2 linked regions of the Homo sapiens genome follow. The protein of the gene in region 2 interacts with the protein of the main gene of each other region in a pairwise test. Each region holds a gene or a part of one and is shown on either strand. Other genes may lie near its edges.

Evidence for each region.
Region 1: the proteins of KRT76 (region 2) and WASHC1 interact in a two-hybrid assay, tested with the Homo sapiens proteins (one large-scale study listed by BioGRID).

What each region holds. Positions count from the first base shown.
Region 1 is NC_000009.12:13,758-16,788, forward strand, and holds the end of WASHC1 (WASH complex subunit 1), read right to left. Parts: coding exon 2,961-3,031; intron 2,305-2,960; coding exon 2,152-2,304; intron 1,393-2,151; coding exon 1,324-1,392; intron 1,184-1,323; coding exon 1,050-1,183; 3' UTR 756-1,049; downstream 1-755. UniProt on the Homo sapiens protein: Acts as a component of the WASH core complex that functions as a nucleation-promoting factor (NPF) at the surface of endosomes, where it recruits and activates the Arp2/3 complex to induce actin polymerization, playing a key role in the fission of tubules that serve as transport intermediates during endosome sorting.
Region 2 is NC_000012.12:52,775,151-52,779,059, forward strand, and holds the start of KRT76 (keratin, type II cytoskeletal 2 oral), read right to left. Parts: upstream 2,196-3,909; 5' UTR 2,142-2,195; coding exon 1,542-2,141; intron 453-1,541; coding exon 238-452; intron 1-237. UniProt on the Homo sapiens protein: Probably contributes to terminal cornification.

The sequences.
Region 1 (3,031 bases), on a different chromosome or scaffold from region 2:
GTTGGAGAAAACAGGGGAACCCCGAAGAAATGGTGGGTCCTGGCCATCCGTGAGATCTTCCCAGGGCAGCTCCCCTCTGTGGAATCCAATCTGTCTTCCATCCTGTGTGGCCGAGGGCCAGGCTTCTCACTGGGCCTCTGCAGGAGGCTGCCATTTGTCCTGCCCACCTTCTTAGAAGGGAGACGGAGCAGACCCATCTGCTACTGCCCTTTCTATAATAACTAAAGTTAGCTGCCCTGGACTATTCACCCCCTAGTCTCAATTTAAAAAGATCCCCATGGCCACAGGGCCCCTGCCTGGGGGCTTGTCACCTCCCCCACCTTCTTCCTGAGTCACTCCTGCAGCCTTGCTCCCTAACCTGCCCCACAGCCTTGCCTGGATTTCTATCTCCCTGGCTTGGTGCCAGTTCCTCCAAGTCGATGGCACCTCCCTCCCTCTCAACCACTTGAGCAAACTCCAAGACATCTTCTACCCCAACACCAGCAATTGTGCCAAGGGCCATTAGGCTCTCAGCATGACTATTTTTAGAGACCCTGTGTCTGTCACTGAAACCTTTTTTGTGGGAAACTATTCCTCCCATCTGCAACAGCTGCCCCTGCTGACTGCCCTTCTCTCCTCCCTCTCATCCCAGAGAAACAAGTCAGCTGGGAGCTTCTGCCCCCACTGCCTAGGGACCAACAGGGGCAGGAGGCAGTCACTGACCCCGAGACGTTTGCATCCTGCACAGCTAGAGATCCTTTATTAAAAGCACACTGTTGGTTTCTGCTCAGTTCTTTATTGATTGGTGTGCCGTTTTCTCTGGAAGCCTCTTAAGAACACAGTGGCGCAGGCTGGGTGGAGCCGTCCCCCCATGAAGTACAGGCAGACAAGTCCCCGCCCCAGCTGTGTGGCCTCAAGCCAGCCTTCCGCTCCTTGAAGCTGGTCTCCACACACTGCTGGTTCCGTCACCCCCTCCCAGGGAAGCAGGTCTGAGCAGCTTGTCCTGGCTGTGTCCATGTCAGAGCAACGGCCCAAGTCTGGGTCTGGGGGGGAAGGTGTCATGGAGCCCCCTACGATTCCCAGTCGTCCTCGTCCTCCTCTGCCTGTGGCTGCTGCGGTGGCGGCAAAGGAGGGATGGAGTCTGACACGCGGACAAAGGCTCCTCCGGGCCCCTCACCAGCCCCAGGTCCTTTCCCAGAGATGCCTGGAGGGAAAAGGCTGAGTGAGGGTGGTTGGTGGGAAACCCTGGTTCCCCCAGCCCCCGGAGACTTAAATACAGGAAGAAAAAGGCAGGACAGAATTACAATGTGCCGGCCCAGGGTGGGCAGCGGCCCTGCCTCCTACCCTTGCGCCTCATGACCAGCTTGTTGAAGAGATCCGACATCAAGTGCCCACCTTGGCTCGTGGCTCTCACTGCAACGGGAAAGCCACAGACTGGGGTGAAGAGTTCAGTCACATGCGACCGGTGGCTCCCTGTCCCCACCCCCATGACACTCCCCAGCCCTCCAAGGCCACTGTGTTTCCTAGTTAGCTCAGAGCCTCAGTCGATGCCTGACCCAGCACCGGGCACTGATGAGAAAGTGGCTGTTTGAGGAGCCACCTCCCAGCCACCTCGGGGACAGGGCCAGGGTGTGCAGCACCACTGTACGATGGGGAAACTGGCCCAGAGAGGTGAGGCAGCTTGCCTGGGGTCACAGAGCAAGGCAAAAGCAGCGCTGGGTACAAGCTCAAAACCATAGTGCCCAGGGCACTGCCGCTGCAGGCGCAGGCATCGCATCACACCAGTGTCTGCGTTCACAGCAGGCATCATCAGTAGCCTCCAGAGGCCTCAGGTCCAGTCTCTAAAAATATCTCAGGAGGCTGCAGTGGCTGACCATTGCCTTGGACCGCTCTTGGCAGTCGAAGAAGATTCTCCTGTCACAGTTTGAGCTGGGTGAGCTTAGAGAGGAAAGCTCCACTATGGCTCCCAAACCAGGAAGGAGCCATAGCCCAGGCAGGAGGGCTGAGGACCTCTGGTGGCGGCCCAGGGCTTCCAGCATGTGCCCTAGGGGAAGCAGGGGCCAGCTGGCAGGAGCAGGGGGTGGGCAGAAAGCACCCGGTGGACTCAGGGCTGGAGGGGAGGAGGCGATCTTGCCCAAGGCCCTCCAACCGCAGGCTCCAGGGCCCGCTCACCTTGCTCCTGCTCCTTCTGCTGCTGCTTCTCCAGCTTTCGCTCCTTCATGCTGCGCAGCTTGGCCTTGCCGATGCCCCCAGCTTGGCGGATGGACTCTAGCAGAGTGGCCCAGCCACCGGAGGGGTCGACCACTTCCCTGGGAGCTCCCTGGACTGGAGCCGGGAGGTGGGGAACAGGGCAAGGAGGAAAGGCTGCTCAGGCAGGGCTGGGGAAGCTTACTGTGTCCAAGAGCCTGCTGGGAGGGAAGTCACCTCCCCTCAAACGAGGAGCCCCGCGCTGGGGAGGCCGGACCTTTGGAGACTGTGTGGGGCCCGGGCACTGACTTCGGCAACCACCTGAGCGCGGGCATCCTGTGTGCAGATACTCCCTGCTTCCTCTCTAGCCCTCACCCTGCAGAGCTGGACCCCTGAGCTAGCCATGCTCTGACAGTCTCAGTTGCACACATGAGCCAGCAGAGGGGTTTTGTGCCACTTCTGGATGCTAGGGTTACACTGGGAGATACAGCAGTGAAGCTGAAATGAAAAATGTGTTGCTGTAGTTTGTTATTAGACCCCTTCTTTCCATTGGTTTAATTAGGAATGAGGAACCCAGAGCCTCACTTGTTCAGGCTCCCTCTGCCCTAGAAGTGAGAAGTCCAGAGCTCTACAGTTTGAAAGCCACTATTTTATGAACCAAGTAGAACAAGATATTTGAAATGGAAACTATTCAAAAAATTGAGAATTTCTGACCACTTAACAAACCCACAGAAAATCCACCCGAGTGCACTGAGCACGCCAGAAATCAGGTGGCCTCAAAGAGCTGCTCCCACCTGAAGGAGATGCGCTGCTGCTGCTGTCGTCCTGCCTGGCGCCTTGGCCTACAGGGGCCGCGGTTGAGGGT
Region 2 (3,909 bases):
TGTCCCTCTGGGCTGGAATAGGAGGGGGCCCATCTGGAGCCTGAAATCTGTGTCATAGCCACATGGGAGTCTCAGTCCCCACCCTTTCACCCCCTTCTGCTTTGTCATGTTTCACTCAATAAATCCATCCCAGAGTATTGACTGAAGGCACAGTTGGGAACAGTTGAAATCCCAAATTAGGACCACACCTCCCTGCTAATTCCCCAGAAGGGGAAACTTCCCAGGAGGAGCCCTCACTTCTTTTTGAAGTCTTCCACCAGGTCCTGCATGCTTTTCAGCTCTCCCTCCAGGTTCCCCCTCTCCCCTAGAAGTGAATCTAGCTGCTTGCATAGGAAGCTGATGTAGGATTCAAAACAAGGCTCCAGGCTGCTGGGCCCTGAGCCTGTGGTCTGCTGCTGGAGCAGTTCCCACTTGGTCTCCAGGACCTTGTTCTGCTGTTCCAGGAACCGCACCTGCATGAAAGAGGGGAGAAAAGGAGTCAGCCCCTTGAGTTGGGCATGTGGGGCTGCCCATCCCAAATGTAGAACTGTGGAGAAGGAACCCAGTTCTTCAATCTACAATTTCCCCTGTTTTTTAATTTGGGAAGGATGAAGATTTAGCAAAGGGAGAGCTAGAATTTGTTGAGTGATTATGCCTTACCTGTTATTTTCATGTATTTCCGTCACATTTAATCCTCACAACCACCTATAAAGGAGTTGCTGTGATCCCCATTTTGTAGATAAGGAAACTGAGACTCAAAGAGTTTAAGTTTCCCAAAGTGACAAGTCTACTGAGTGACAAAGCTAAGAATCAAACCCAGGACTGTCCTGGGTCTATAGGGATCCTTCAGAATACCACTGAAGGAGGTAAGCACAAATAAAGTTTGTCATTGTTTTTTAGATGTAAGCTTTTTTCAGCTCCATAAAGGCAGTGAATACAGTCAATGAGGTCTAACATTTCTTTAGAAGTTTCACATAGGAAGACCTCCTTTCAGTTATTCAGCTTGCAGCTGAACTAGAATTCACTTCAGATCCTGGGCTCAGTCCCACACAGACCCAGAACACCCTCCTCTGCCCCAGCATGGACAGCTCAGTTTAATTATTGGCTGAAGCACAGCATCATCTGGAAGGTAAGGCAGCTGCCAATGCACCTCATTTAGATGCAGCCTCAAGATCTGTGCTAACACAAGGTTTTGATTACCAGCTACTTTGGATTATCAAGCAATTGCTTTTCAGGAGAAATTAAAGTAACTGCAATAATTTCATGACTAAAATGGCTCATTCTTCAAAAAGCTAAGAGCATGTTTGGACCCCCACTTCATTTACCCTCATCTCATTCTTAGCAGGAAACCAGGACCAGGAATTCTTCCCCCCATTTCACAGCTGGAAAAAGAAGGCCCAAAAAGTGAAAGGGGCATGATCACTGTCCTGTAGGGACCAAGACAGCACCAGGACAAGAGCCAAGCGCCCCTGCCCTGTGTCTCACAAGTCCCCATGGCATCTTTCTACACCGACCCCTGGGCACCCCAAACCCTCCACAGCACCTCTTGGCCTTGCCCTCACCTTGTCGATGAAGGAGGCAAACTTGTTGTTGAGGGTCTTGATCTGTTCCCGCTCCTGGGCCTTTACTTGCCCAATCTGGGGGTCGATCTCCACATTGAGGGGCTGCAGGAGACTCTGGTTTACAATCACTTCCTGAATTCCCCCAGGAAAGCCCCCAGGGCCAAAGCCACCAGGACCACCAAAGCTGCCAGGCCCACCAAATACACCAGGACCACCAAAGCCACCAGCTCCACCAAAGCCACCAGCCCCTCCAAAACCACTACCTACTCCTCTGCCACCACCAAAGCCACCACCATAGCTGCCCCCAAAGCCACCTCCATAGCCACCTGCAAAGCCACAGCTGCTCCGCCCTCCCCCAAAGCCTCCAGCCCGGGAGCTGCCAGCTGCCACGCTGATGGAGATGCTCTTGTTGCTGCCCAGGTTGTAGAGGCTGCGACTGCCAAAGCTGCCTGCTCCGCTCCTGAAGCCACAGGCCCCTCCACCAGCTCCCCCAGAGCGGGCCACACAGCTCATCCTGCTGCTGCCGGAGACCACAGCAGAGCGGCCAGAGAAACCCTGGCTCCTGCCACTGAAGGATTTCTTGCAAACTTGTCTGTTCATAGTGAGAGAGCTTGGAGGCAAGCTAGTGATCACTTAGCAAGAGCTGAGAGGGATAGGGACAAGAGAGGAGACTGGCCTTTATATAACAGGGAGTTTGGCTTGGCAAAAGGAGAGGCGAGCAATTAGTTGAGAATCATCTTGGGTTTGGTTTGCCTCGTAGGCATTAAGTTACTTCTTGGTTCCCAACACACCTCAGAGATAATCCTCTGGGCCAGAGTGGCTTTGCTTTCTTAGCTTAATCACCTAAACTTGCCTCAGTTGACAAAATGCTGGAGCTCTCCTCCCTCCCTTTTTGTGCTGTCCTCAAGGGTTTCAGGGAACCCAAGCAGCACCTGATCCAGCAGGAGGAAGCAGCTTTAGACACCAGGTGATCCGGAGCCATGAGCTCCCTGACACAGGGGGGTGAGGACCAGGCAACCTCTTCTGAGTGGGCTGGGTCCCTCCCTGCAGCACCACAGTGTCCACAGGCTCCCACAGTGGCTGCGCCCGTCTCTGCCATCATTAGGCCTTTTCTTCCAGTGGCATGTCACCTGTTCCCAACTCTTCAGAGGGCCTGGAGTGGGAGCGGAAGTGAGAGGGGCCCAGACCCATAGAGTCTGCTCTGCCAGCACCTCAGCCAAAGGCATCCATCTCAGCAAACCTGGAGTTTGGGCTGAGAAATGCTACTTATGGGGAAGAAATTACAGTGGAGGTAAACACGTCTAGCTCCTGGAACAGGGAGCAAACAAGTATGAGGTTTGGGAAGAAGAGGGGGCATGCACTGTGGAGAGCCTCAGACCAAGCCCTCCCCCCACCATCCTAGACTGACAGCAGGCAATTTCTGGACCCAGAAGCAAGAGGAGACAGAATCTGGTAACCCTCCAGCTGGCTGGTAGAGTCGGCTCAAGCACCCCATTCATCTTAGGAGGACAGTGTATCTTGTGTCTAGGCCCCAACTCAGATCTTCTGGAGGGGATCCCCTCCCTGCTTTACCCCCTGGTCTGGGTCAGATGCCCCTCCTTGTCTTCCCACCATACCCTGTACTTTTCCCATCGTGAACCTGACATAAAGTATACTTACCTGCTTACTTGTCCATACCCCTCCGGTCCCTGAGCTTCTTGAGGGCAAGGCTTGAGTCCTGCCCATTCTAAATTATCCTAAATGTCCAGCTCCTAGCATAGGGTAAGCACAGCACAAACGTGTTAACTGACTGATGACTGATGTCTAAGAATGCAAATACCTAAAACCAGCTCCCACCCCAGCCCTATGAATGAAAATCTTCAGAGGAAAGGGTTGAGAGTTTGCATTTTTAACAAGCCCTCCAGGTCATTCTTATAATGCGGAAAGTCTGGGAAACCCTGGTCTAGACCATGGCTACACCATATGGGCCAGGAATAGGAGGATGGAGGACCCCTGATGGCAGAACGAATGACACATGATGAGTTACTGCTGTCACTGCCAAGAGCTCAGCAGACCCCAAACCCCATCCAACCCACCTCCGCACCCAAACACACCACACAGGGCAAGACCAAATCCTCAGGTTGTCGTCTGCATAGGAGATTTCACACATATGACAGGAGCAGGTGGCACTGATTCTAGACTCCCTGAGAAATTGGTGGGGGGTCTATCTCCAGAATTCCAGCCAAACTGGCAGTGGGCGCTCTGTCTTTCTGAGTTTCTGGTTTCTGAACAGTCCAGTCTAGGGGAGAGAATTGGTCTGAGAACCTTGGAACCACCTTGAGTTGAGTGACTTCAAGAGCTTTGCAGCTAATTCTCAGCTCTCTGCTCT